7 linked regions of the Homo sapiens genome follow. The protein of the gene in region 5 purifies or fractionates together with the protein of the main gene of each other region. This does not show direct contact. Each region holds a gene or a part of one and is shown on either strand. Other genes may lie near its edges. The genes, in order: SARAF, ANO5, DAGLB, CLTCL1, OR10H2, NDFIP1 and DHRS7.

Region 1 (4,472 bases), on a different chromosome or scaffold from region 5:
TATGATTTGCTAAGCTTCCTCCCATTCTGTAGGTTGTCTTTTCACTTTCTTGATGATGTCCTTTGATAGTCAAAAGTTTTTCATTTGGATAAGATGCAGTTTTTCTTTTGTTGCTGTTACTACACTGTTTTTAAAATAATTTTATTTGGAGGAAGATTCATAGGTTTGTTGACTTAGGTAAATAAAACAAGCTAAACTTGTATTGGTATTTCATGTTAACTACCACTTCCTTAATCATGCGTACTTACAAGTAGCTTCTAAGTACTGTATTTAAATTTCAACTCTTGGAATAGAAGGAGTTTCTGTCCTGCTACTAAATGGCCTCTCTCCTGCTACTAAACATAAGCCAATGTATGATATGCTCAACACTCCTTTGCTCATGCTATTCCCTTCTCTAGCCTTTCCTCTCTAAAAATGTTATCATTCCTTCCTAACACAGCACAAATGTCTCATCCTTTAAGTCCCAATGGCTCCAACCAGACGTGACTTTATAATGTTGTGTTGGGACCTACATGTAATCTGAGTGCCTGTCTTACCTCTTCTACTAGTAAGACAGTTTCTTCATTCTACCTTATTCATTTTTGTATATTGCAATTAATACATGCTTAATGAATGACATCACCATTACTGCCTTTTTTTCCCATCAAGACTCTAAAAGTCATAAGTAAAGTGGAGTGAGACTTCTGCTATAACCCAGAGAATTCTATGATTCAACTTAGCAGTACTGGGGGAAAATATTGTGAAGTAAGTATCACCCAGTACACATCAACTTCCTCTCTGAATTGCAAAGACCACGCATAAAGGTTGTATCAAACAAGAATATCATTCTGATGGAGAGGGGAAATCGTCAACATAAGTTTCTTGCCTTGTGACCAGTCGTCTTAAATCAATTTTGAAAGCAGTCAGAATACAAAGTAGAAATATGTAACTAGTGATTTAAACTGAATTCATTTAATAAAATCTATCTCTAAAGCATATTCAGTTTTGGAACTTCAAGGAGATGCTCTGCTCGTATACAAAACACCAGCGTCCCAAAGGCAATCAATGAAACCTGCCGAAATGCTTCCTTTCAAAAGTAACCACCCTCAGTTCTAAGACAATTTTAAAATCAAGTGCTAGAAGCACAATAGAGATATATGAACCCCTACTATTTACGATCTATAATTCCTAATTATCTTAACTTTGTCTTAAGGGTAGGTTGGTATTCTTTGAGGAACGACAGGAAAATGACAACCATAAGATATCCCCTATCCCTCACCCTCAAGTATATAAAAAGTTGTGAAAATTTACAAATATCTTAGAAGGAGGTCACGATACAAAAACTAAAATGAGTATTTTCAGGCTTTAAAATCAGTTCATTTCTTTTGGAGGCCATTTCTTCCACAGGAAGAGTGATTGATTTACTTACATATTTTAGGCTGATCTGAGATTTCCGTAGGTGCACCCTCAAAAGACTGAATAATGTCCCAATAAACAATTTACTGAATAAAAACCCCATTTAGACTGCCATTACTGTAGTGGATATTACCTGTACATCATACCCATCCCAGCCTTTGTTCTGACACTGTATGACTTTTGGGGTATAAGAATCACAACCAGCTGTGCCTCCAACACATTTCAACTGTGGGATGGGATCCAGCCTGCGGGAGGTGGTATAGCGGTCATAGTGGAGGGTAAGAGCTTTTACATCCCGCAGCAACATTCTGTCTGAAACAGCAAGAAAACAGAGGAACACAAAGTAAGTATCGTGTCAGAGAAAGAAAGGTTCATCCTAACGAAACTCTCGTCATAGGAAATGCCTTTCTTGCCTTCTGAGGATGGCTAAGAGAGGATGAATCTATTTCTCAAAACTATCCCAACAACATTCAGGCCTTCTGAACAAAATTCAGGTCACACTTTTAAGATCTCCCTGCATTTCAGGCCAGATGCTTCTACAGCACAAGTTGTACATCATTTTTGCTAAATCAAAAGAACAAAAAGTTCATTAACCTGAAACATTGTACTACTGTGTAATAATAATAGTGGTTAATTAAAATGGCAAGAATATAAGCATGTTCCTGAAGCACATTTAATGCTTTAAATGTCCATCAACAGGTGAAGAAATTAACACATTCTGACCTATTACAGTGGAATATTACATAGCAGTTAAAATGAGTGAACTAGAATTCATGTATCAAACTAGATAGATGGCAAAAACATTTTAAACAAAATACAAGTTGCAGAATGTTTTGTATGACAGCTTTACATAAACCTTTAAAAAAGGCAAAACAGTACTACATACTGTTAATGTCTATATATGTATATAATAACAACATGAAAACATGTATGGGAAGGATTTAACACCAAATTCAAATAAGTATCTAGTCTAGGGAGAGAGAAAGAAAAGAGATTTTAGCTCTATTCCTAATGTTTTATTACTGGGAGTGGGGGATTTGTAGCAAATATGGCAAAATATAAAGATTCAATAAAACTGGGTGATGACTATGTGTAGGTTCATTGTACACTTCTGTATGTTTAAATACTTTAGGTATTTCATAATTTTAAAAATCAAAACTATTTAAACTATTTCACAAACTAAAAAATTTAAAACATACTGACAAGAGACTTTGAAAGGAGGAGTCAAAACAATAAAATTATGTCTGGCATTCATGTGCAAAAATGAAATTTTTAGGTTGGGTGTGGTGGCTCACACCTGTAATCCCAGCACTTTGGGAGGCCGAGGCACGTGGATCACCTGAGCTCAGGAGTTCGAGACCAGCCTAGCCAACACGGCGAAACCCCATCTCTACTAAATATACAAAATTAGCCGGGAGTGGTGGCACATGCCTGTAATCCCAGCTACTTGGGAGGGTGAGGCAGGAGAATCGCTTGAACCTGGGAGGAGGAGGTTGCAGTGAGCCAAGATCACACCATTGCACTCCAGCCTAGGCAACAAGAATGAAACTCCATCTCAAAAAAAAAAAAAAAATGAATTTCTATGCATTATTGGAAAATAAGGACAAAGTCTTCCTATTTATCATGTTGTGGATTATTGATGGAAGATGCTGTGGATTGGCTCAGTCAACATCCACTTCACCCTCAAACAGGTATGCCTTCCTGCAAAGCAAAAGGAATCCCAAAACCTCTTGCAGCTATAGTTGCCAAAAGCAATTTCAGTTCTGCCAACCAGAGGGACTCGAGCAAAATCTGGAAAGCAGACCCTAGACTTATACAGTGCTCTGTCCTTCAGCTAGTAAACACAGGCATGGAGACCATGAGTTTTCAAACTGATAGTATCCTCTAATCAGCTTCCTGGCTGTCATGAAGCTTGACATGAACAATCTATTTTTCAATGTGGCAGATGTAATAGGCATCGCTTTCTACCATTTTGTGAGTACCCAATTCCCTATATTCAACCTGTCAGATTAGCAGAATTTGCAGCCTCCCAAAATTCTACTAAAACTATAATAAATACATTGTTTTGATGATGTGAATGACTGTGGTCAGGTAAAACGAAAGAGGAGATGACAGCAGAATTTTGGAAGGAGAAAGTAAATGGACTAGTGGTAGATGACTAGACCTAAGTGAAAGACAAATGCCAGAACAGCAAAGGGGGAAACTGAGAATCAACCTGATGTACATAACAGAATCCCTAAAAAAAAACAAAAAAAAAAAAACAAAAAACGGGAAATGGCAGCTCTGGAATGGGAGATGCCTGGAATACACACTACAGGGTGAAAGCTACTTGAGAGGAAGCCATATTCCCAGATCCTCTCCCCAACTCCACACTGTTCTAACTCCCTCTTCCCCACTAAGGAAACTGTCTGGAGATGTATTCTCTGGAGAGGATAAAACTGAAGGGATTTGCATTGGGGACCATCTGGCATAGTAAAGGGCATGGGGACAAAAACAACCAAACAGGGAACCCAAGTGACTGTGTGCACTCTGACTGCTGAAAGCACAGTTCTCCTTCCCCACATGGTGCACAAAATGCTAACAGCCATCCCCTTGTCCTCTGTGGGAGACTGGATGACTATTCCCTTGGTAATCTAACCAAGAAGAAGTACCTAAATACACTGACATCAGGAACTTCCTCCAAAAAAGAGCAACCTAGGTCACCCTGTTGTGAAGTTCAAAATCAAAAGTGCAACTGCACACTGATAGCTTCCAATGAGCTTTTTGGTTCCCCAGAATTAACCATGAGCAGGGAGCCAAGGATTACTAAAAATATGAGGAAAGTCCCTGCTATGGTTTGAATGTGTCCCCCAAAGTTCACATGTTGGAAACTTAATCCCCAATGCAACAGTGTTGAAAGATGGAATCTTTAAGAGGGCTCTGCCCTCATGAATAGATTAATGCTGTTCTTGCAGGACTGGGTTAGTTATCGCAGGAGTGGACTCCTGATAAAAGGATGAGTTAGGCCCCTTTCCCCTCTCTCACTCTCTCCCTTCTGCCTTCCACCATGGGATGACACAGCAAGAAGGCCCTCACCA
Region 2 (4,472 bases), on a different chromosome or scaffold from region 5:
CAGCTGAGAGCTTTGAATTTATGTCATACTCTTGCAATGGATGCTAGGAAATGTTTTGTTTGCTTGAGTACATTACTACACCATATAATTGAGGTTCTATTAGCAAAGAAGGAGGAGGAGGAGGAAAGATATTTGTCAGTAGCCTGTAGCCTCTGCTGTATTAGTCACCCACCATTAAGTCTTTCCTATTTTATTAAAGGACATCTTCTCAAATTTCTCATGCTTAGGAGTCTTCTATTTCATCTTAACATAGTTTTATGAAAATAGGTATATTTTCTAAAACAAAGTAAATTTAGTGATAAGAGTGCATTGTTCTACTTTAAAAAAAATCTCTTTGATCTCTGGCCTGATAAAATATAGGTATTCTCGTATCTGCATTACATTCACTCTGTTGTGATGTGTTGTGTTTTGGTTGAAGTGTATGAAAAAAATCTGGCCTCTTAGAGATCTATAGTTGAAAAGGGAGGATAATTTTAGAAAGTTTTTGAATAATTATGGATATTCTTCTCTGATTTGCCCCCAAATTCAACGAATAATAGGTTCTTTAAAGTTAGATATAATGTAGAATTTGAAACCATTGAAATGAACTTTTATTTCACTGCTGCATTAAAATCTATTGGTCTGTCCTTCACTTTAAATGTATCTTTTTCTCATGCATGGTTTTGTAACATCATGTATTGCTTATTTGGAAAACAATTATCTACTGAGTTATACAGATCTTCCAAATGCTGACATATTTCATTTTAAAATACCAAAACGTAATGCTAACATCATCACTGATCTTATCAGGAATGCCTTGGGAATCTGTTAAGCACACAGTGACGGTCATAAGTTTACAAAAATTATTTCATTTGCAACTCAAATTTTGTCATTGGCAATAAATACTGTCAGGTGTTTTCCATGAAGTGATAGATTCATGTCATTAATGTTTGAGGTAATATCTGACAAATAGTCAGGTCTGTATGACTCTATATGTTTTCCCATCATACTTTCAACTAAAATGGTGTTTTATGAAAAATTTAGCTACTTTACCTTGCAATGTAAAGTACTTTTTCATGAGGCAACCATGGTACTTTGGAATGCAGCATCAGCGCTTCATGCATTCTTCCTGTTTCTTTATAGATTATTAAAAATTTGTGTGTTCAGGGTCAAGATTTTATAAACTTCATAAGCTTTACTGTTTATCAAGGACATTTTTAAGTTAAACTACATTTTTGTTTCTTTTTGTACTGAGAGTGCATGATGGTGGAGAATATAATGACTACTAATATAGTCTGGTGCCATAGCCTTGATTCACATGATGGCACCAGCAGTTTTATCCCATTGTTTTTGCATCACCAGTGCAAACGTCAACAGAATGAAAAAGACAAATATGGTTTTAATATTATTATAAAACTTTAAATACAAAATAAAATGTATAAATTTGACACATACAAAAAGTAAAATAAATTGTATCTTGATGGGGGATGGCAGACAGTACTTTAAAATTGCTGATATAGGATTTGAATTATCACCTAGAAGGAGAAGTTGTATGGGTGTGTTTTGTATGGGTGTGTTATGTATGTGTGTGAGTACTGTTGTCTCTCAGTATCCACAGGCATTGGTTTCAGGATACCCCACTGGTACCAAAATCCAAGGATGCTCAAGTCCCTTATATAAAATGCCATAGTATTTGCATATAACCTATGCACATCCTTGTGCATGCTTTAAATCATTGCTAGATTACTTATAATATGTAATACAAAGGAAATGCCATGTAAATATTTGTTATACCTCTTTGCACAGTGCCTGGTGCATGGCAAGTTATCATTATATTTTGGCTTTTCATTTGCAGCCACAGTGAAAAACTTGGCTCCCTTGTCAGCTCGCTCATTCAATTTTTCAATAAATGTTTATCAGCCGTCTTTCATTTGCCAATCAGTGTGCTAAAAGAACAAAATCAAAAATTGTGCTCACTTTTCAGAAACTTATCTTCTTTTGCGGATAAAAAGATAGTAATTAAAATGCACAAATATTCGTGTAAAATTGAAACCCTGACAAGTGCAAATAGAGATATATCAGATGCTTTGAACTAGCCAGATATGTGAAAGAAGGCTTCCCTGGGGAGAGAGTGACTTTCAAGCTGATATCTGAAGGATGTGAAGAATTACCCAGGGCAAGGTGGGGAGAGAGAGAGTGTGTTATTCCCTTTTGTGCTGTTATAACAGAATACTACAGACTGGGTAATTTATAAACAATAGAAGTTTATTTGGTCCATGTTCTGGAAGCTGGGAAGTCCAAGGTTGGGGACCACGTCTGGTGAGCCCCTTCTTGCTGTGTCATAACATGGTGGAAGGCATCACTTGGTGAGAGAGCATGCACACATGAGATGGCCTAACTTTCTTTCATAACAAATCCATTCTTGCTATTACAAATCTATTCCTGTGATAACAGTGCTAATTCATTTATGAAGGCAGAGCACTCATGACCTAATCACCTCTTAAAGGGCCTACCTCTCAACATTGTTGCATTGCAGATTGTTTCTGACACATAAACTTTGGGAGACAAATTCAATCCATAGCAGAGAGCATTCCTTACAGAGGAATAATTGTGTGTTAAGGCCCCTCAAAGAGGGAGAATGGAACTGAAAGAAGGTATAAGGATCTGAAAGGAGACTAGTGGGCCAGACTTAAGAGCGTGAAAGGGTGAGGTTGGAGAGGTTGGTTGGTTTTAGTTAATTTTAAAGAATTTTATTGTTTGCCAAAGGCAAAAAACTCATATCAAGAATGACCCCATCTTATACTAGCAAAGCTATGACCCATAAATCTGCTTTTTAAAATAAAATAAAATTATAAATAAAATAAAGCTTTCTTACAAACCAGTGTTTATTTTCACATACAGCCTCGTTTTAACCAATGTACAGATCAAAACTCAAAATATTCCTCTGCAGAAAACTTTGGACTTTATTCCCTAGCTGACCTATAATGGTTGAATTTCTGTCAAGTATAAATTTATGTATATAATGGGCTTAATTATTTAAGAGAATAACTGAGGGATTTGTGTGATCTTTGAAAAGGAATTGGACTGTCATACTTGGGTTGTGAAAAAGCTATACAAATGGTAGATTTTTTAAATTTTTTTTTGACTTATACAATTGCTTTATTTTATTATTTTTTACTTATAAGAACAAGCATTTATTTCTCACAGTTCTGGGTGCTATGAAGTCTAAGATCATGGTACTGAACTCAGTGTCTGGTAAGGGCTTGTTTCCTGGCTCATTAATGCCATCTTCTTACTGTGTCTTCACATGATGGAAGAGGGAAAGCAGCTCTCTGGAATCTCTTTAATAAGGGCTCTAATCCCATTCATAAGAGCTCTGCACCATGAGCACATTCAGACTACAGCACCTGAAATACTTAGTGTTTTTTGGCTTTGTAGACACATCATTCTGATTTCTGCTTTTATCTTCACACTGCCTTCTTCTGTGCCTCTGTTCCCTCTTCTTTTCTTAGGAGGACATCCATCATTGGATTTAGGGCCCACCTTAAATCCAGTATAACTTCATCTCTAGATCATTAACTAATTACATCTGTAAAGACTACATTTCCAAATTAGGTTTCAGTCTGAGGTTTGAGATGGACATGAATTTTGGTGTAGGAGAGACATTAGTCAACCCCTACAATAGGTCAATATCAAGTTTCCATATAATAAAGTGTCTTGTTCTGGGCTCTCTGTTCAGTTTCATTCGCCAGTTTTTCTATCGTATTTCTAAAATTATGGTCACTAACTTGAACTTAAAGTGCTAACATTTTATGTGGTTCCCATTGTGATATTTTCTCCAAAAAAAATATATAGGAAGTTTTTGACTTAAATATATCTTAGGGCTTTTTCAAGTTGGAACCACTAGAAAATAAGAATTTCAGTTCTGTATTTAACTTTTTTAGTGTCATAAACTTACTTGAACATGTATTTTAGTGCAAACGACTAAATGCATTACCATTACGGAGCTATCTGTATGTCGGGAAAGTACTCTGGCCTGTGTAGAAACTGGTAGTGTTCTATATACAAGCTGTCTGGTTTGATTTCAGGAAAATAAGGTGAGAGAATATGAAATCTCATGTGGTGAGAACTAAAACATATGAATGGACACCCTATTGGGTATTTAACTCTCAGTGGTTTTGTGGTTATAGGTTGATAACCACATTGATCAGAGTTAAGTTTATTTCTCAGTAATTGAGATTGTATTTTACACATCAGTATTTTATGCTTTTCCTGTTATAGGCAGTTTTAGGTAAGACTTCTTTTGGAGTCTGTTTTAAACAATTTAGCTCCGAATCATCTTGTATCTTTTCTTCTAGTATTTTTTCTTTGAATTTTTTAATTCATTCAATTCCTATTTTTTCCTTACACAGACTTTTGAATATGTTCTGATCAGTGGCTAATTTAACATGTTTTTCTCTTTCTTATTTAATTTAGGGGAAAAAGTCAATAAG
Region 3 (4,472 bases), on a different chromosome or scaffold from region 5:
ACAAGGCACCCGCTTACCTTGGGTTTATTGCAGTGCGCGACCACTCGCAAGATTCTTCTCTTCAGATCTTCCAAGTTGGTCACACTGAGCCTGTTTAGCAAAGGGGCACACTGAGGCTGGGACCTGGCACTCCCAACCCCCCAGCCCTGGGCACAGCACCAGGTGGGCTTACCTGGGAATCACATCCTTCCCCAGGACGAGTGACACGATGAAGCTCTGAGAATATTCCTGCAGAGCTTTGCTGAAATTCCAAACAGAGAGAGGATGTTAGCTTTACGATGACACTGCCCACAAGGGCTTCCATGAAAGAAATCAGTAACACTGAGGGGTTAGGTTCCCAGGCCTCAGCTCTGTTCTCTCTTCTCTAAAGGGAGGGTAGGGGAAACGTCAGTTATGGCAACTCACTGGCCAGATCCTACTAAAGCCACAATATGTGTTCAACAGAGACGCCCCGCAGCTAAAACCGCAAACTGGACACCAAGGCGGACCAAGCACATGGATCTGTCCTTTGACCCAGAAACCGCGCTTGGAAGACTCCATCAAAGATGCACTGGAGGCCGGGTGCAGTGGCTCACGCCTGTAATCCCAGCACTTTGGGAGGCCGAGGCAGGCGGATCACAAGGTCAGGAGATTGAAACCATCCTGGCTAACACGGTAAAAGCCCGTCTCTACTAAAAATACAAAAAATTAGCCAGGCGTGGTGGTGGGCGCCTGTAGTCCCAGCTACTCAGGAGGCTGAGGTAGGAGAATGGCATGAACCCGGGAGGCGGAGCTGGCAGTGAACTGAGATCGCGCCACTGCACTCCAGCCTGGGCGACAGAGCGAGACTCCATCTCAAAAGAAAAAAAAAAAAAAAAGATGCCCCAGCAAAAATGAAGGGGCAGAGGCAACAGGCGATTCACTGCGGCAGAACCTGCACCGGCAGAGGCTGGAGCCTCCAAACACCCATCCACAGAACTGCCTTCAGCTCCCAACAACGAGTCACATAATAGTGCGTCCCGCACAGCTGGGAGAAGGAGGAGGACTGTGTGTGCCACTGCGGGGTCATCTCAGGACATGCGGTGAAAGTGAACAGCCACGACCAGAGACAGAAGAGCAGGGAAAAGGTGCAGGCTTTCATCAACAGGAGGAGAGGAACACAGACACGCTTCCTTCCAGCCATGGACATAATGGAAACACCAGTCAAAACCACCACATTCTACCTCTGGGGTGACAGAAAGGACTTTTTTGTTTTTGAGATGGAGTCTCGCTCTGTCTCCCAGGCTGGAGTGCAGCGGCACAATCTCAGCTCACTGCAACCTCCATCTCCCAGGTTCACGCCATTCTCCTGCCTCAGCCTCCCAAGCAGCTGGGACTACAGGCGCCCACCACCACGCCCAGCTAATTTTTTGTATTTTTAGTAGAGATAGGGTTTCACCGTGTTAGCCAGGATGGTCTTGATCTCCTGACCTCATGATCTGCCGGCCTTGGCCTCCCAAAGTGCTGGGATTACAGGTGTGAGCCACCACACCCGGCCAATTTTTTTTTTTTTTCTTTTGAGACGGAGTGTAGCTCTGTCACCCAGACTGGAGTGCAGTGGCACGATCTCGGCTCACGGCAACCTCTTCATCCTGGGTTCAGGCAATCCTACTGCCTCAGCCTCCCGGGTAGCTGGGACCACAGGCACACGTCACCACGTCCAGCTAATTTTTGTAAGGAACCGGGTCTATGTTGCCCAGGCTGGTCTCGATCTCCTGGGCTCAAGTGATCCTCCTGCCTCAGCCTCCCAAAGCGCTGGGGTTACAGGTGTGACCCAACATGCCCAGCCTCCTGATGTTTAAGTATCACTATACACTACAGTTACATTTTCTCTTTGGTGTAACAAAAGCCTTTCCTACCTCTTTCCAATGAAAAGGCCTGGAAATTATGACCAGCCCTGTGGTAATGAGAACTACCAGTGCCCCGATTTCAGTTCAGAAATACCATTTCCTGCTAAAAGGAACCAATATTCCTTGGAGAAACGGTTGATTCCAGATATGGACGATGGAAAAAAAAAATACTTGCTCATTTCAAGCCCAAAACTTGAGAATATTCTTGAGAAAGCAAGAAAATGAGGCCAGGCACAGTGCTCAACACCTTTAATCCTAGCACTTTGGGAGGGTGAGGCAGGAGGATCACTTGAGCCCAGGAGTTCAAGACCAGCCTGGGCAACATAGCAAGACCCTGTTCCTTACAAAAATTAGCTGGATGTGGTGGTGTGCGCCTATGGTCCCAGCTACTTGGGAGGCTGAGGCCGGAAGATCACCTGAGCACAGGAGGCAGAGGCTACAGCAAGCCATGACTGTGCTGCTGCACTCCAGCTGGGGAGACTGAGTGACACTCTGTGTCAATTAAAAAAAAAAAAAAGACAGCAAGAAAACAGACGACTGAAATTTAAGTTTTAAAAAATTAATGTCTGCCTCTGTAGACTGCTAGGCAACAATTCATTATTCTGAACACTTCTTTATTGAGGGAAAGATTTAAGCACTTATACATTCTCCTGTTTTTTCCTGTGTGAACTATATGTCAAAGAAACCAAGTGTGCGAAGAAAAGCTCTTTTTGTTCTTTACGTACATACTTTTTAATCATCCCAAAGGGCCGGGATTACAGGCATGAGCCACCACGCCTGGCCTTTATTTCATTTTAATGAAATAAAGTGGTATAATTTTCCTTTATAATCATGGCAAAAGGTTACACAGAACAGTCAGTATGCTGGAATCAGCAAAAAAAAATATAAACTTTTCAGCCAGGCGTGGTGGCTCATGCCTGTAATCCCACCATTTTGGGAGGCCAAGGTGGCGGATCATGAGGTCAGAAGACAGGAGATCGAGACCATCCTGGCTAACACGGTGAAACCCGTCTCTACTAAAAAAATACAAAAAATTAGCCGGGTGTGGTGGCGGGCGCCTGTAGTCCCAGCTACTCGGGAGGCTGAGGCAGGAGAATCGCTTGAAGCTGGGAGACGGAGGTTGCAGTGAGCCGAGATCACGCCACTGCACTCCAGCCTGGGCGACAGAGCAAGACTCCGTCTCAAAAAAAAAAAAAAAAGTAATTTTCAAACTCATAAAAATGTCTTTAAACATGTGCATTATGCATGTGTCCCCACCCAGGGCATATGCCCCCCGAGAGGGCGGAGGGAGTGCTCAGCATACTACGGGCTCTGGGCGATGTGCCTACCAGGCGCATGGATGTCAACAACCGGACCCCTCTGCCAGGGCTGTGAGAATGGGGGAGGTTGTGCTTGCTTGTGGGGAGGGAGGGTATGAGAGATCCCTACAATCTGCTGCTCAGTTTTGCTGTCAGCCTAAAACTGCTCTAAAAAATAAAGTCTGTTTGAAAAAAGACTCTTAGAATTAAATCATTGAGGAAATTACAGGTATGGTCACATAGGTCTAAGAAAGGCTAGACAGACTTTCTTCTGTGAAATAGCGCTTCAAAACACAAACCTCAGCTGGGTGCGGTGGCTCACGCCTGTAATCCCTGCACTTTGGGAGGCCGAGGCGGGCAGATCACTTGAGGTCAGGAGATCAAGACCAGCCTGGCCAACATGGTGAAACCCCACCACTACTAAAAATACAAAAATTAGCCGGCATGCTGGCGGGTGTCTGTAGTCCCAGCAACTCGGGAGGCTGAGGCAGAAGAACCGCCTGAACCTGGGAGGTGGAGCTTGCAGTGAGCCGAGATCACGCCACTGCACTCCAGCCTGGGCGACAGAGCAAGACTTCATCTCAGGAAAATAAAAGAAAAAAAAGATGAGTCTTGACCACATGACTTGTAAGTAGCAAGCTGTTAGAGCAGGAAAACAAAGGCTCACCTCCACAGCCCCCGGGGTGGGGAGAAGGCGTAGCACCTGACCTGCGGGTAGGCGGCTCTGAGCATGGTGGCCAGCAGGGCGGCCGCCCCGCCCCCGAGGCTGTGGCCCACTATGACCAGCCGGTACTCCTAGAGGACAGACAGCAGAATGAGGTGAAGGGTAAAAACAACAGCTCCAAAGAGGACAAGGAAAGAAACGTTAACTAAGATCTCACAGGAGCAATGCTGAAGGCTTGGCTCAAAATCCCGTCGTTGATGAGTCGTTGGTAAACGTATCTGGCAGCTTGAGAAATACCCTAAAAACACAGACAAAGAAGGTGGCCGTTAATCCTCAGACAAGGCAGGCCCAGCAGAGACTCAAAGATGGGATGACGCTGTGCACTGATGTGTGAGTCTCTCCTGGGATCTGAGACTGCAGAATCAGCAGCCACGTCCATCGTGCATGGCTGTGCTCCTGGCACCTTGCACAGCGCCTGACGTGAAGCAGGTGCCAGGTGTGGTGGCGCACGCTTGTAATCCCAGCACTTAGGGAGGCCAAGGCAGGAGGACACTTGAGCCCAGGAGTTCAAGACCAGCCTGGGCGACATAGTCTCTACTAAAATAAAAATACAAGACCAGCCTGGATCCTGACTCTACTAAA
Region 4 (4,472 bases), on a different chromosome or scaffold from region 5:
CAAGAGGGCTGTGGTCCACACTCACCTCCTCAATCCCGAGGTACTGTGTACCCCTGGGCACTCCTATTATGGCTGTTGTCTATGCAATTAATGTCACATGCTCCCCAGTGTTCACCTGTTGGTGATTGTGGAACTGTGGCCTGAGCCTGTCACTGCCCTAACCTACCATACTTTACTACCAAAAGCAGTTCTAATTCAGCCCACGCACAAAGTTTATCTGCTCAGCAGCATGTCTGGGCCCTGTAGCACCTTTCTTTCTGATATCCACCTTTGACTTAGTCTAATAGCAGGAGTATACTGGTCACCTTTTAACATTGACAACCTAATAGGACTGTCTGAAACCATTAGCAAAGCTAAACTAGCTATTGTGTTCCAATTTATGGAATAAGTTTTAGCATCATCTGTGGAATATTCCAGGTGAACAGTTTAGATCAGTGTCTTTTCCCAGCTTTACTCCTTGCTCCTACTTTTTCCCGTGATGGATAGTTGCTTTTCAACCCCTTTATGTGGAAATTCTCTGTATTTTTGACACTCAGGGGAACAGGAGAATGACCTAGTTATTTTCCAAGTGTTAGCAATCTTTAGAGTGGTGCATCGTTGTGGACAGACTCTTCCTTGTTCCCAGTGGCTTGTCAATTTCTTTGGCTCCTTATCGGTGGAGGATTCTGTGGAGTGTCTGCATGCCATGCTGTCTGCTAACATCAGACAGAACCTTCAGCTGTGTGTGCAGGTGGCCTCTAAGTACCACGAGCAGCTGGGCACGCAGGCCCTGGTGGAGCTCTTTGAATCCTTCAAGAGTTACAAAGGTAAACCATGCAGCCTCTCGCCGACCCCACCATGTGACTACACCTCCTTTCTCAGGTGTTGCTGCCTACCTGCCCGCCTTAAGACGGCCTTCCTGCAAAGCCAGGCAGGATGCAGCACTGGCTGCCTTGGGTGCTCAGTCGGTGGCAGAATGCTACTGCCATCTCATGTGCACCCTCAGCTTCAGTAACCTTTTTGGTATTTCCAAAGGAAGAAATCAGGTTGGTTGGTGATGGGATGGAGAAACTTATGGAGCCCGGTGTGTCTACGCAGCACAGTCTGGCAAGAATTCATCTAAAAGCCTGTGTCGTGGGTACAGTGAAAGGGCCTGATGTCTGGTCTTTACAGCCCCAGGAGGGAGGCTCTTTGGGCCTCTCCTAAATGAGAGCCCACGATAGAGGGTGCATTGCTTTGTGGTGTCTGCTACCCAGTTGATTGTGGGGGGCTGACAAGGTAACCTGGTTGTCTTCCTTTCCCCTTCTTGGACATCACACCAAAAAAGTGTTCTAGGGCAGTTGGGATGGGAGTGGCTTTGTTAGGGACAGATGGGGGCTGTCTGGCCCACCCAGGATAGAGACTAAGCATTTGTCTAGGCATCAAGCCACTGCCATGTGTCCAGTGAGGTTGGGGCATCGGTGGAGGGTGGGACATGACCCTGTCCTCAGGGAACTGGCCTTCTCTTTAGAAGACACCCCTGTAGGAAAGACCATGGCAGACGATTGAGTGGAGCTGGGCTGGGAGAGGGCAGTAGAGTAGGTTGGTGGAGAACCGTCAGCCCAGGGGCTGCCCATTCCCTTCCTAGCATCAGGGTCTCACAGTTACAGTGAAAGACCTCGACAGGGAGGGGCCTTCTCAGATGTGTCGTACCCTGTTGTTACTGGTGCCTCCTGGCTGGCCTCTGTAATGATGAGGAACATCATTAGCCTCTGTGAATGCTGTCCTCTGGGGCTCACCCTGGGGCTCAGCATGTGGTGCCCATGTCACTGTCAGCTCTGTGTTGAGTTGCAGGCCTCCTCCTGGAGGCCATGGCTTATTTCTCTGTCCCTTGATGTGTCTTTTTAGAGAAGCAGTCCCACCACCATTTCAGATTACCTCAGTGGGAATTACTCTTGATGACGACTATCTAGGTATACCTGGGCCCACAAAAGGAATTTCACTTGTACCAAATATCTAGTATTTTACATCAAAACATGCCAGGTATACCTGCCAAATATAATGGAAATCCGACTAGCTATTTTTGGGAGCTGCCAAAACAGACAAATGGCATATTGATTATGAGTTCTGAGTGTGCTGTGGGTCCCTGGAGAGTGGAGCAGGGTCATCGAGGGAAGGTGGGCAGCAGCTACGGAGGAGACAGGCAGGTGTTACAAGGACAAAAATGGAATGGTCTCTCTTCATAGGCCTCTTCTACTTCCTGGGCTCAATCGTGAACTTCAGCCAAGACCCAGATGTGCATCTGAAATACATTCAGGCTGCCTGTAAGACAGGGCAGATCAAGGAGGTGGAGAGGATATGCCGAGAGAGCAGCTGCTACAACCCAGAGCGTGTGAAGAACTTCCTGAAGGTGTGTTCCAGTGCTGCCTCCTTCCATGAGCTGCCCTTGCTGATGGCAGGTGGGGCAGACCATCCGCAGGACGTCCCAGGGGCAGGAAGCTGGATCTGTCTCGCCAGGGACCCCTTAGTCCCAGGGACAGAGCTCCACTTTATGGCTTAAAGTTCTAAAGTAACCCTTCTATCGTTTTAAGAGTGTGGAAAGCAGCTTGAGGCTGTGCTCTAAGTATCTGGCACTTATTGCTGCATTGTAATTCATCAACATCCCATTAGTGCCATTGTCAATTAGGCAGGCAAAGCTGCAGAAACAAGTAGACCACTCAGCACTAGTGTCATAAAGAACAGGAAGCCTACTTCCTTATGTGGCAGTCCAGGGTAGGCTGGAGGTCAGTGGGGTGACTTTCCTTCCCACTGTACTTCAAGGACCAGCTTCATGGCTGCTTTGCCGTGTTCAGCACCTCACCTGGATGTCGTCTTCCCAGTCAGCTAGAGGAAGGGAAGAGCACAGAGGAACCAGCATAGGTGGTTTTTATGGGCGAGGCCTGCAAGTGGCAGATGACACTTGGATTCACGTTCCATTGGAGGAAATGAGGTCATGTGGCCACACTTAAAACTTCAAAATGTGATCTAGGCACGGGACCACATGAGGGGAGGCATGATTGTGGTGGCCTGTGGCTGTCCTACCCAAGTGCCATCATCATCTGGGAATGGTGGCCGGGTGTGTTTCCATGGCCTGCGGCTGCGTGTCTGAAAAGGCAGCCCTTACCGCAGGTGTGCTGTTCTTGAGAATGGCCTGGTTTCTGTTGGGTTTGCACATAATGAGCTGCTTGTCTTAAAAGATATTTTTGTCCAGATTTGGAATGTTAATGCCAAATGTAGCAGTCTTTAACCAAATACTAATATCTTTCTCTCACTTATTTCCCAAAGCAAATGCCATACCACAAAACGACAGCCTATTTAGAGCAGTCTCATTCTGAGTCTCCTGTGTGTCACTCTGCTGCAGAGACAGAGCCGTCCCATGTGTGCAATGAGTCCGAGGTCTGGCTGTCTGGTTTCTCCACTCCCTGACTTGTTCTGTGCATTCTAATCCTCAGGAGGCCAAGCTCACAGACCAGCTTCCCCTCATCATCGTGTGTGATCGTTTTGGCTTTGTCCATGACCTTGTCCTATATTTATACCGCAACAACCTGCAGAGGTACATTGAGATCTACGTGCAGAAGGTACTGCTGGCTCCCTGGAGTGACACCCGGCTGCCTCTGGGCCCCAGTCAGTGGCAGTCTTCCCCTCAGAGGCTGCCTGTAACACCTGACATTTCAGAGACTATCATTTTGAAGGGTGGTGGGTTCGTGTGCTCAGACTGCCAGAGTAGAAGACCACAGTCCAGGCAGCTGAAACAACACACATTTATTTCTCACAGTTTTGGAAGCTGGAAGTCCATGATCAGGGTGTCGGCAGGGCTGGTTTCTGGTGAAGGCTGTCTCCCACGCTTGCAGACAGCCTCCTGGCTGTGCCCTCACAGGGCCTTTCCTCTGTGCATGTGCACTCCTGGTGTCTCTTCCTCTTCTTAGAAGGACACTAGTCCCATTACATTAGGGCCCCACCCTTGACATTGATTACCTTCTTAAACACCCTCTTTCCAAGTAGAATCCCACTAGGGGTTAGGACATCAGCAGGTGAATTTTGGTGGGACACAGCGCAGTGCTAAACAGGAGCCCTTTCAGGGTTTTGCCCAAACTGTCCACGTCGTAGGAGGCTTCTAACAATAACTTGTGTTTGCAACACTGAAGTTACTTGACCTTGACTACCCTAGGTCAACCCTAGCCGGACCCCAGCTGTGATTGGAGGGCTGCTTGATGTGGATTGTTCTGAGGAAGTGATTAAACACTTAATCATGGCAGTGAGAGGACAGTTCTCTACTGATGAGTTGGTGGCTGAAGTAGAAAAAAGAAATAGGTAAGGTGTCCTTACTTGGTGTTTTCTCTTACCCCTGGATTCTAGTGTCTGTTGTTGTTTCTGTCTAATTCTCCAGGACTGTCTCTATAGCTGGTCGTTCATGTACACATCTTAGATGTAGCAATGAGTTACTTGCTATTGGTACTGTGAAGACCTTGGGGGAA
Region 5 (3,771 bases):
AAGTGCATCCACGCTGTTGCATGTATCACTGATTCAATCTTTGCGTGGTTGCATAATATTTCATTGTGTGGTCGGACCACATTTTGTTTATCCATTCATTCATTGATCCAGTTTGCATTGTAACATAAACTTTTGTATTTTGCATCTAGCCTGTTTGCAGACTGGCAAGAAAGAGAGTGGGAGAGGAGTCACAGCCTCCTAGTTTAGTTTGTTGGGGAACTTCCATAAACTAAATAAAGTAGAAGGGCTCCTATTGGTGCAGGGAGGAGAGCTGCCCTGGCAGAGAAATTGGGCAGATCTGACTCTGTGGCCACTCAGGGAAGGTGATGAGAGAAGCCATGGCTGATAGCCTAGGTTTTTGCTGTTAGGTTTGGGATTGGAGGATTGGGGTTGGGGTCAAAAAGAGGAGGAGACCAGCAGAGTCACGTAGTGGAAGCATGCTGGGCCCATAGCCTAGAGGTCAGTGGACCATAACCATTTTCTGCTAAGAAGTTTTTGACTGGGCATGGTGGCTCACACCTATAAATCCCAGCACTTTGGGAAGCTGAGGCAGGCTGATCACTTGAACTCAGAAGTTCAAGACCAGCCCGAGCAACATGGTTAAACCCCATCTCTACTAAAAATACAAAAATTAGCCAGGTGTGGTGATGCGGGCCTGTAATCCCAGCTACTCAGGAGGCGGAGGCAGGAGAATTGCTTGAACCCAGGAGGCGGAGGTTGCAGTGAGCCGAGATCATGCCACTGCATTCCAGCAGGGACAGAGTGAGACTCTGTCTCAAAGAAAAAAAAAAAAAAAAGCGGAATTGTGATAGAGAAAGAGTAATTCACACAGAGCTGGCTCTGCAGGGGACTGGAGTTTTATTATTACTCAAATCAGTCTCCCTGAGCACTTGGGGAGCAGAGTTTTTAAGGACAACTTGGTGGGTGGAGGGGAAGCCAGTGAGCCAGCAGTGCTGATTGGTCAGAGATGAAATCAAAGCTGTCTTCTTGCGGAGAGTCAGTTCCTGGGTGGGGGCCACAAGATCAGTTGAGCCAGTTTATCGACCTGGGTGGTGCCAGCTGATCCATCAAGTGCAGGATCTGCAAAATATCTCAAGCACTGATCTTGGGAGCAATTTAGGGAGGGTCAGAATCTTGTAGCCTCCAGCTGCATGACTCCTAAACCATAATTTCTAATCTTGTGGCTAATGTTAGTTCTACAAAGGCAATCTAATCCCCAGACAAGAAGGAGGTCTGCTTTGGGAAAGGGCTGTTATCGTCCTTGTTCCAAACTATAAACTATAAACTATAAACTAAATTTCCCCCAAAGTTAGTTCACCCTATGTCCTGGAATGAACAAGGACAGCTTGGAGGTTAGAAGCAAGATGGAGTTGGTTAAGTTAGATCTCTTTCGCTGTCTCAGTCATAATTTTGCAAAGGTGGTTTCAATTTTCCAGGGGAGCAATGAGGCTCAGAGAGGGGAAGCAACCTGCCCTGCATCTCACAGCTAGAAAGCAGTGGTGCCGAGAATTAAACAGAGTCTGGACGTTTCCATGACATAGGGAAGAGATGACTTCCAGCTGAAGGTGGCAATCAGGGAGCAGCTTGCTCATAAAATTCAGGTAGGATTTGGACCCATAAAGATAGGGAAAAGCATGAAAAGACCAGCATGAACAAAGGCAGAAAAGCAAGGTGTAGGTGGTGGTGCATGGATCTAATAATCGTGATGGCAATAACAATAGCAGAATAATTATTACTATCAACATTTATAATTTATTAAATTCTTACTTTGTGTCAGGACCTGCACAAAGCACTTAAGGTGAGTGATCTTATTTAAACCTCAATACATTATTATTAATGCCTTTCTGCAGATGGAGTAACCATGGCTTGGACAGATGAAGGAGGCGCTCTCAGATGTCCTCCCAGGCAGGAATCACTAGACACCCCCATGCTCCTAACCACTGGGTCTTCTTTCCTCTCTTCCCCAACTAGGGGTGGCCGTCATGCTGGGGCTAAACCACACCTCCATGTCTGAATTCATCCTCGTCGGCTTCTCTGCCTTCCCCCACCTCCAACTGATGCTCTTCCTGCTGTTCCTGCTGATGTACCTGTTCACGCTGCTGGGCAACCTGCTCATCATGGCCACCGTCTGGAGCGAGCGCAGCCTCCACACGCCCATGTACCTCTTCCTGTGCGTCCTCTCAGTCTCCGAGATCCTCTACACCGTGGCCATCATCCCGCGCATGCTGGCCGACCTGCTGTCCACCCAGCGCTCCATCGCCTTCCTGGCCTGTGCCAGTCAGATGTTCTTCTCCTTCAGCTTCGGCTTCACCCACTCCTTCCTGCTCACCGTCATGGGCTACGACCGCTACGTGGCCATCTGCCACCCCCTGCGCTACAACGTGCTCATGAGCCCACGGGGCTGCGCCTGCCTGGTGGGCTGCTCCTGGGCTGGTGGCTCGGTCATGGGGATGGTGGTGACCTCGGCCATTTTCCAACTGACTTTCTGTGGATCCCATGAGATCCAGCATTTTTTATGTCATGTGCCACCTCTGTTGAAGTTGGCCTGTGGAAATAATGTACCAGCTGTGGCCCTGGGCGTGGGCTTGGTATGTATCATGGCACTGCTGGGCTGTTTTCTCCTCATCCTCCTCTCCTATGCCTTCATCGTGGCCGACATCTTGAAGATCCCTTCTGCTGAAGGTCGGAACAAGGCCTTCTCCACCTGTGCCTCTCACCTTATTGTGGTCATTGTGCACTATGGCTTTGCCTCTGTCATCTACCTCAAGCCCAAAGGTCCCCACTCTCAGGAGGGTGACACCCTGATGGCCACCACCTACGCAGTCCTCACGCCCTTCCTCAGCCCCATCATCTTCAGCCTCAGGAACAAAGAACTGAAGGTTGCCATGAAGAGGACCTTCCTCAGCACACTCTATTCCTCAGGCACCTGAGTAGCTGGTGTGGAAGTGCTGATAGAATATGATAGGAGGATGACCATCACCTTGTCTGCACAGTGTGGCTAGTAATGCTTACCTTGTAAGGCAGGTGTAAAGATTTCTGTATATGACAACACTCATCACATAGTAGGTGCTCAGTAAATGTTAAAAGCATGTTTACTTCCACAACTCTTGATCTGTATGTCTTTATCTGAGTTTTAATTTTTGAGTTATAGTAGCTTTATTAAGATGTAATTCACCTACCATACAATGTACCCATTAGAGCGCACATTTCTGTGGTTTTTGCGTATTCAGAGTTATGCAACCATCATGACAATCTGGCTTAGAGTATTTTAGTCATCCAAAAAAGAAACCCAAATCCTAGTGCTTTGGAAGGCTGAGTGGGAGAATTGTTTGATGTCAGGAATTCACGATCGGTCTGGACAACATAGTGAGATGCCATCTACACACACACACAAACACATACACACACACAAGTTCTTTTTTTTTTAATTTATTACACTTTAAGTTTTAGGGTACATATGCACTACGTACAGGTTAGTTACATACATATACATGTGCCATGTTGGTGTGCTGCACCCATTAACTTGTCATTTAACATTAGGTATATCTCCTAATGCTATCCCTCCCCACTCCCCCTACCCCACAACAGGCCCCAGTCTGTGATGTTCCCCTTCCTGACACACACAAAAATTCTGATAATTAGCTAAATGGGGTGGCACATTCCTGTAGCCCCAGCTACTCCAGAGGCTGATGTGGGAGGATTGCTTGCATCCAGGAGTTCGAGGCTGCAGTGAGCCATGATCACCACTGAACTCTGACTTGGGCAACAGAG
Region 6 (4,472 bases), on a different chromosome or scaffold from region 5:
TTGGTCTTGAACCTCTAGCCCCAGGTGATTCGCCCACCTCAGCCTTCCAAAGTGCTGGGATTACAGGCATGAGCCACTGTGCCCAGCCTTTGACCTCTTTTTTTTTTTTTTTTTTTGAGACGAAGTCTCACTCTTGTCCCCCAGGCTAGAGTGCAATGGTGCGATCTCACCTCACGGCAACCTCTGCCTCCCGGGTTCAATCGATTCTCCTGCCTCAGCCTCCTGAGTAGCTGGGATTACAGGTGCCTGCCACCACACCCAGCTAATTTTTGTATTTTTAGTAGAGATGGGGTTTCACCATGGTGGCCAGGCTGGTCTCGAACTCCTGACCTCAGGGCATCTGCCTGCCTCGGCCTCCCAAAGTGCTGGGATTATAGGCATGAGCCACCATGCCCAGCCTGACCTCTGCTTTTTACTGTGTGTGTTATATATATATAGTCCAGTAAATAAAATAAATGCCTTCAACATTAAATAAGTGCCCCCAAATAATCTGATTCAAGTCACTCATCCTCCTGTTCTCTGAATTTTGACAACTTATATAACATCACCTCTAAAAGCATTGCATTTTCTTATCTTTCTAATACAACAAATAAAGGAAATGGTTGCTCACTTCTATGTGAGGCACACAAAAAGATAAATGGCAAGTAACATGAAGGGAGAAAATCAGGCTGACTTTGATCTGTCAGAAAAAAGAAGCTTTCAGAGCAAAATTCATCAAAGGCATTTAATTCCTATTCTACAGATTAAGTATGAGTAGAAGCAACGCAAAAGGGCCCCGTAGACCTGGAAGATGAGGCTTAGCTCATGTAAAAATGCAGCATCCTCATAACTGCTTTAATTATATTTTCCACAGATATTCATGAAAATAGAAGGCAAAGAGAAGGGATATTAAAACAAAGGTATATTAAGCTTTGAATATTCCAGTAAAAGGCACCAAATAAACATAATGTATTAATATATTAGCTCAACTAGTTATTTTAATTCAGTCAGATTCACCCATAATCCAAAGCACTCTAGTTTGTAGGGGGTGGTTCTGATATGCATACATACTTACTGAAAAAAGTTAACATGAAAATCCCATCATTTCCTATCCTCAGCTGGTCAGCATCATCAAAATCATCCCGACCCACAAAATCCTCATCCTAAATGAAAAGAAAAAGAATTATTTCTAGGCAAAGGGAAGACATAAAGAAAAATGAAGGGTTAAATTTGAGTAGCAAGGAAAAAAGTTATTGCTTTGGTTCAGTTCAAAATTATGAGCATTAAAGGCTCAATGTGTGTTTAAAATTCCATTTTGCATTATTAATATATAATTAGAAAAGAAGCAAATCTTTCTTCTATCCCCAGTGTTCTAAATGAAATTTTCATCTTATAACCCAAGTTCTTTAACAATACACTTCAAAAATTTAATACACTTCAAAAACAATACACTTCAAGAATAGTTCACAAAGAACTATTTACTCTTCCTTTAAAAAAATATACCTCAAGAAAAGACAAAAGACAAAATTTACTTACACATTTGGTTTAAATTCTAGAATATCAGTAATCGAGGACCTGTTTAGGACCTAAAATATTAGTAATTAGAGATAAAATCAGCCAGGTGCAGTGGCTCATGCCTGTAATCCCAGCACTTTGGGAGGCCAAGGCAGGCAGATCACGAGGTCAGGAGATCGAGACCATCCTGGCTAACATGGTGAAACCCGTCTCTACTAAAAATACAAAAAAATTAGCCGGGAGTGGTGGCGGGCACCTGTAGTCCCAGCTACTCGGGAGGCTAAGGCAGGAGAATGGCATGAACCCGGGAGGCAGAGCTTGCAGTGAGCCAAGATCCCACCACTGCACTCCAGCCTGGGCAACAGAGTGAGACTCCGTCTCAAAAAAAAAAAGATAAAATCAACCAGCTCAAGTGCTTTACGAGGCTGATATAGGGGAAAAAAGAATAGTACGATCATACATGAATAGTCCACAGAACTGCCCACTGCTCAACTCCATAAGCATGTATTTGTATTGGTATACAGATCTAAATCTCACTTCTAACCTTATCAGCAGATAAGATCTTTTCCATCCTAACTTGATAACGTAATATTGCAAAACTAGAAATAACATGATCATGAACAATACCAACACATGTGGGCTATCTTTTTAACTGATATAGGTGTGTGTTGAGATATTTAAAAATAATTGAATATATACTTAAAAGTGATAGATTTGTACACAGTTCAATGAGGGCTCCTTAAATGAAAAATATTTTAGGGAATATCAAAACTTGTTGTACACAGAAAAGGGTCTGGAAGACCCAAATTGTTAACAGTGGTTCCCCTGGGGAGTGGGAACTAGAGAAAGGGAAGTCGGTGGCAATGGCAGCTTCCTTTTCTAACTTAACATACTTCCTCTATTGTTTGAAATTTCTATAAAAACGAATTTTTATAATTAATTTTTTAAAACATTAAATACCTAGTATTCTTACTTCGTATCAGCAGAATAAGGTTTTGCCAAAATTAAAAGCTAATTGTTTTTTGCATAACTATTCAAAGATATACTCCAAAAAATATATGGAAGTAACATCTAATAATATTACGAACACCTTCTAACTGTTCTTCCTGTCCTCTTGGTATCTCTTCTACCATGATGCATCCTAGAAATTGCTGCCAAGTTAATGTTTCCAAAACACCACACAAGTCCTCTCATACCCCTGCTCAAAAACTCTGAAGGATTCTCTAAAAGCTACATATGAAGTTTAAATACGCCCATCTAACATTCCAAAGATTCTATAAACAACAGTTGTAGTCAGGACTTTCTATCTCCCTTCACAAACTCTTGCTCATACAAAGCCAATTACTACATCCACAGAACTGCCTTCACCTGGCTGAATTCACACCTGCTTTCTGTGCCTTTTTCCCTCTGGAATGTTCTTACCCATCAAAACTCCGGGCCCACATCAAATCTCATTTTCCCCTATGATCACCCAGTAAAAAGTTTCAGTTCTTGATGCCCACTGCTCTTATGTGTCTTAGTTATCAGTATTTGTGGGCCCTTTACCCTAGTTGGATTTTAGGCTTTTGAATAACAATGAGGAACACTGCCTTATACAAAGCTTTTTACCTATCCACTGTAAAATATACTGCATCTTATATTTAAAAAGTGCTTTATACATGTCTGCTGAATACTAGAGCCCTTTAAGAAGTTCCTAAATATGTACTTGTATCAAATGAAAGTATTCTGAAGAGTTATGTGATTAATCAGAGCTAATTTCCATACTGATCTATTTACCATATATTGCAACAGATCTGCAGAGTACAGTGAAACAAACAAGGACTTTGGATTCTAGAATATCTGGGTTTGACTTTCACTTCTGCTACTTATCAGTCATATGACTTTGGGAAAATTACTTTTTCTCTCTGGACCTAAATTTTCACATCTGTAAAATGGAGATAATATAATCTCTACCTTTCAAGGTTACTATGAAGATTGGAAACAATATACAAAATATATAAAAGCATCAAGCACAGTACCAAGCATGTGGTTTGCTTCCAATATACGGCAGTTACATTATGATGGTCTTGCCCTTAGACACTAGGGTTTTTAGTTTCTCCCTGGTACCTGTAAGAACTGAATGCACATCATCGCCATTTAGGATCATCCTAGATTGGGCTCATAAACTATTTCTACCAAGCAATGATTTTAGGAGCTTCGCTCCTCACAGTAGGTGTGGTCTGCAAACTGTCTACTATCTTAAAGCCAAGAGGGGAACATCTGGGCCTATGCCATCACACTGCCCAGACTAGGCTTCTGTACTTGCTCATCACTCACTCCAGTTACTTGCTAGAATAGAGCCTAGAGGCCTGATGGTCCCCGCATTTCTGGGGACTTATCCTGCTTCCATTCTCCCACAATGCCCTACCTTCATCAGCCTCAATCTGGATGAATATTTACAAAATGACAAATGCAGCACTCACATATCTGACATCAAGAACCAAGAGTGCCCAATAATCTCCACTGGTTTATATGGCATCCCAATCTCCACCTCCATGAATCAACATCAGGCTAGATGGAATCTGAACTCACTATGTCCCCACAAATGACATGATCTGGACTGCTGGAAGAACGGAGTTCATCTAAATCAATGTGAAGATCCCTCTTATGAGTTTAATTCTACAAATTTGCATATATTTATTCTCTTCCTAGACCTCCCTAGCAGCTATCCACCCAACAGCAAAATATTAAGTGTGCAGAATCAAGGAAACATTAGTGTGCTTCTGCTTCAAGATACTTCAGCCATCCCAGGAGACTTGAAAAAGTAGTGGTAATAGGAGAGATGAAGGAAAAATGAGCAGGTCTGACTAGTAATTTACCTCATCATTTTTAAGAAGAGATGAGTTTATTATCCCAAAAGCAAATGTACCTGATTTTTAAAATTAGCTCTACTTTCACTAATCAATACAATCATAAGTAACGAATCAAAATTGGATAAT
Region 7 (3,362 bases), on a different chromosome or scaffold from region 5:
AGATTGCGGTGAACTGAGATAGTGCCACTGTACTCTAGCCTGGGCGACACAGTAAGACTCCATCTCCAAAAGAAAGAAAGAAAGAAAGAAAAAAATGCCATACAGATGAATCTTTAAAGATTTTAATTTATATATACCTCTTCTACCATTCATTGGCTGGAGTAGTTGAACAGACATCAGCAGGCACAATGCTAGGCAGGCACTGGAGATTCAGTGATGAATAAAACAAAACTGACCTGGAACCTGGCCTCCTGAAGCTTCTCTTCATCTGTCTAAATTCCTTTCTTTCAAGGCCCAGTGCAAGTGACACCTTCATCAGGAAGGGCTTCCACATGATTCTATCTGCAAATCTCCCTTTTCTGAACTATTATGCTTATAGTCTGTACCAGGCCACATGACATATGTTATTTTGTGGCATTCTAGAATTATTCCAATCTTTTCATTCTTATAATTGGTGTGTTGTATTCAATAAATAATGTTGTTATTCCAGTTTTCATCACTGGTCACGCAAGAGTCCTCTCTTTATTATATTTTATCCCCATAGTTCACCCCGTTTCCTCCCCATCCTAAGTAACTATTACCATACCTAAATATATATCTAATTAGGTTGTATGTTTTCTTGCAAAATGAGCACTATCTTCTGTGCACATATATTTGTGTATGTGAACAGTATTGTGTTAGCGTTGCTTCTTTATTTCTTCACTTATGACTATGCCTCTAGTACATATCCATGTTGTTATGTATGCATTTATTCCATTGCTTCTACCCGCTATACCTCATCGTGTACCTCTACCACATGTCATCTTCCCCCTTTTCCAAGGACAGCCACTTGGGTGGCTTCCAACTTGCCCAACAACTATTCTACAGTTATTTTATGTATGTTACTTTGGCTCCAGCTCAATTGTGAACTGCTTGTAGATAAGGACCATGTTTTTCTTTACCTGTTACTCCTGCTGATTTCCTATTAGTGCCTGTGCATGTTTTCTGCTGTAAGGTGTTAAATGTTAAAGTAAAATTAATAATAGTAGAAGTAAGGAGTTGCCAGTGGAATCTTCCTGAGCTGAATCTAATCATGGCTTTACCCCTTACTAGCTTTGTGACCTTGACCTTGGAAAAGTAAAACCTTGTTGGTCTTTCTTCATCTATCAAGGTAGGTAATACCATCTATCTTAGTGGGCTGTTATGAGGAATGAGTTAATTAACTAATACTAAGCACTCCAGTACAGTAGAAGACATACAACAGGTGTTTAATGAATAATAGGTGCAATGAATCCTACCTGCTGCTTCAAATTACAGCCATCTGTACCTGTCAACTTTTCTAAGAGTATAAGCATCTTGGAGGTAAGGTCATTTCAAATACTTCTTTATATCTGGTCATTACCCAGCACTCTGCTTTGTGTGAAATATTCTATACATTTATGTTGCTATGGTTTGGATGTTTTTGTCCCCTCCAAAATTCATGTCGAAACTTAATCCCCAAAGCAACAGTATTAAAGGATGTGGCCTTTAAGAGGTGACTGAGTAATGAATGAGATTAAATGCTCTTTTGAAAGCATTTTGCTCCTCTTTCCCTTCTGTCCCTTCCACCATGTGAGGACATACATTCCTCCACTGTGGAGGATGCAGCAATGAGGTGCCATCTTGGAAGCAGAGATCAGCCTTCACCAGACACTAATTCTGCTGGTGCATTGGTCTTGGAATTCCCAGCCTCAAGAGCCAGGAAAAACAGATTTCTGTTGTTTATAAATTACCAAATCTGTGGTATTTTGTTATAGCAGCACAAATGGACTAAGACAAATCTGTTAACTTAGATTTTAAGCATATGTGCTAAAGTATTTTAAAAGGTTATTTTATCCAAGAATATAGTATGAGTTAATACCTTTTTTGCAAGATTCATGGCAATCTTTTATTATTTATTTTTTATTTCATTCCATGTTGGAAGCAAAGTCATATCTATTAAAAAGTAAAATCACAAATTAGTCTTTGATTATTCAGAAGCATAAGAAGATTGCTGTTTTCATGTTTTCCATTTCTCCCTCCAGTGGCTTGAAAAGTACAGGTGCTCTTTTCAGTCATGTTTTGTCTTAAAGATTTTAAAATAAGAAGAGTCTGCATCCTGTAAAAGAGGGACAGAAACATGGATCAGTACCTACTCCTATTTACTCCAGTTTTTAACATTTAAGTCCTTCTGTTTTGAGGAGCTGTATCATTATGATTCACTATTAAGAATCTTTACAAAAGTTCAGAAACTGCTTAAATTAGAATTTAAAAATCATAGCCAAAATTCTAGATGTACACAAAAGTACTTCTAATGAGTTTAGCATCATCTCTGGTTTAGAGGAGGTATAAATAGCATTGGACTGCAATGCTAAATTCTCTATAATGACTTTTCTGGATCAGCATATCATACCTACACTGACTTGCCCTAATAAATAAAAACAATGAGTCAGATTATGTAGAATTGAGATATATGGAAGATAACTCTTTAAAATTATTTGTGGCCAGGCAGGCACTGTGGCTCATGCCTGTAATCCCAGCACTTTGGGAGGCCGAGGTGGGCAGATCACCTGAGGTCAGGAGTTAGAGACCAGCCTGGCAAAACCCCATCTCTACTAAAAATACAAAAATTAGCTGGGTGTGGTGGTGTGCACCTGTAATCCCAGCTACCCGGGAGGCTGAGGCAAGAGAATTGCTTGAATCCAGGAGGCGGAGGTTGCAGTGAGCTGAGACTGCGCCATTGCACTCCAGCCTGGCCAACAAGAGGGAAACTCTGTCTCAAAAAAAATAAAAAGAAAAAAAAATTATTTGTGAACTTTTTGTATATTGCTTAAGGAATAAAACAAGGCAACCTGATAATCCCCAAGATGTGATGTTTCTTTTCAGAAGATATGCATTTACCACTTTCAAAACTTTGCACTAAGAAAGACAAAATAATAATAATGATAATACAAAATTCAGTGTAGCCACTGTTCTTGATCCCTAAAAATAATAAAGATTCATAAAAACAAAGTTCCAGACATACAGACTAAAGAAGCAAATTCTAGTTAACAAGTACTATTAGCTTGAAATAAGCTATGCTAGCATTTTCTTAACTTAGACGCTTATCAATAAGAAAATTTATATATATACATATATATAAAATATAAAATAGTGGGAGAGAGGAAGAGTACAGACTATAAAGAATGAGGTATTATGTCCTAAAAATTGCTTTGAGAAATGACAGAATGCCCAGCTTATAATAAAGAGTGACAAAGTAGTAAGACTATATAATAAGCAATATTTCAAAGATGGTGGTAGGAAGAAAAAGGCTGTCATTTTTTTAGAAAAACCTAGATGTAAAAAAAATGCGAGATTTGCTAAAT

Evidence for each region.
Region 1: the proteins of OR10H2 (region 5) and SARAF purify together in Homo sapiens (affinity purification with mass spectrometry; one large-scale study listed by BioGRID and IntAct). This does not show direct contact.
Region 2: the proteins of OR10H2 (region 5) and ANO5 purify together in Homo sapiens (affinity purification with mass spectrometry; one large-scale study listed by BioGRID and IntAct). This does not show direct contact.
Region 3: the proteins of OR10H2 (region 5) and DAGLB purify together in Homo sapiens (affinity purification with mass spectrometry; one large-scale study listed by BioGRID and IntAct). This does not show direct contact.
Region 4: the proteins of OR10H2 (region 5) and CLTCL1 purify together in Homo sapiens (affinity purification with mass spectrometry; one large-scale study listed by BioGRID and IntAct). This does not show direct contact.
Region 6: the proteins of OR10H2 (region 5) and NDFIP1 purify together in Homo sapiens (affinity purification with mass spectrometry; one large-scale study listed by BioGRID and IntAct). This does not show direct contact.
Region 7: the proteins of OR10H2 (region 5) and DHRS7 purify together in Homo sapiens (affinity purification with mass spectrometry; one large-scale study listed by BioGRID and IntAct). This does not show direct contact.

The regions. Positions count from the first base shown.
Region 1 is NC_000008.11:30,072,349-30,076,820, forward strand, and holds part of SARAF (store-operated calcium entry-associated regulatory factor isoform 1 precursor), read right to left. Parts: intron 1,708-4,472; coding exon 1,529-1,707; intron 1-1,528. UniProt on the Homo sapiens protein: Negative regulator of store-operated Ca(2+) entry (SOCE) involved in protecting cells from Ca(2+) overfilling.
Region 2 is NC_000011.10:22,199,349-22,203,820, forward strand, and holds part of ANO5 (anoctamin-5), read left to right. Parts: intron 1-4,455; coding exon 4,456-4,472. UniProt on the Homo sapiens protein: Plays a role in plasma membrane repair in a process involving annexins. Does not exhibit calcium-activated chloride channel (CaCC) activity.
Region 3 is NC_000007.14:6,412,794-6,417,265, forward strand, and holds part of DAGLB (diacylglycerol lipase-beta), read right to left. Parts: intron 4,129-4,472; coding exon 4,048-4,128; intron 3,962-4,047; coding exon 3,834-3,961; intron 242-3,833; coding exon 173-241; intron 91-172; coding exon 18-90; intron 1-17.
Region 4 is NC_000022.11:19,221,787-19,226,258, reverse strand, and holds part of CLTCL1 (clathrin heavy chain 2), read left to right. Parts: coding exon 1-40; intron 41-625; coding exon 626-806; intron 807-2,204; coding exon 2,205-2,368; intron 2,369-3,449; coding exon 3,450-3,575; intron 3,576-4,165; coding exon 4,166-4,308; intron 4,309-4,472. UniProt on the Homo sapiens protein: Clathrin is the major protein of the polyhedral coat of coated pits and vesicles. Two different adapter protein complexes link the clathrin lattice either to the plasma membrane or to the trans-Golgi network.
Region 5 is NC_000019.10:15,726,062-15,729,832, forward strand, and holds OR10H2 (olfactory receptor 10H2), read left to right. Parts: upstream 1-1,962; 5' UTR 1,963-1,982; coding exon 1,983-2,930; 3' UTR 2,931-2,991; downstream 2,992-3,771. UniProt on the Homo sapiens protein: Odorant receptor.
Region 6 is NC_000005.10:142,132,400-142,136,871, reverse strand, and holds part of NDFIP1 (NEDD4 family-interacting protein 1), read right to left. Parts: intron 1,143-4,472; coding exon 1,055-1,142; intron 1-1,054. UniProt on the Homo sapiens protein: Activates HECT domain-containing E3 ubiquitin-protein ligases, including NEDD4 and ITCH, and consequently modulates the stability of their targets. As a result, controls many cellular processes.
Region 7 is NC_000014.9:60,142,898-60,146,259, forward strand, and holds the end of DHRS7 (dehydrogenase/reductase SDR family member 7 isoform 1 precursor), read right to left. Parts: exon of another isoform or gene 2,117-3,362; coding exon 2,069-2,116; 3' UTR 1,222-2,068; downstream 1-1,221. UniProt on the Homo sapiens protein: NADPH-dependent oxidoreductase which catalyzes the reduction of a variety of compounds bearing carbonyl groups including steroids, retinoids and xenobiotics.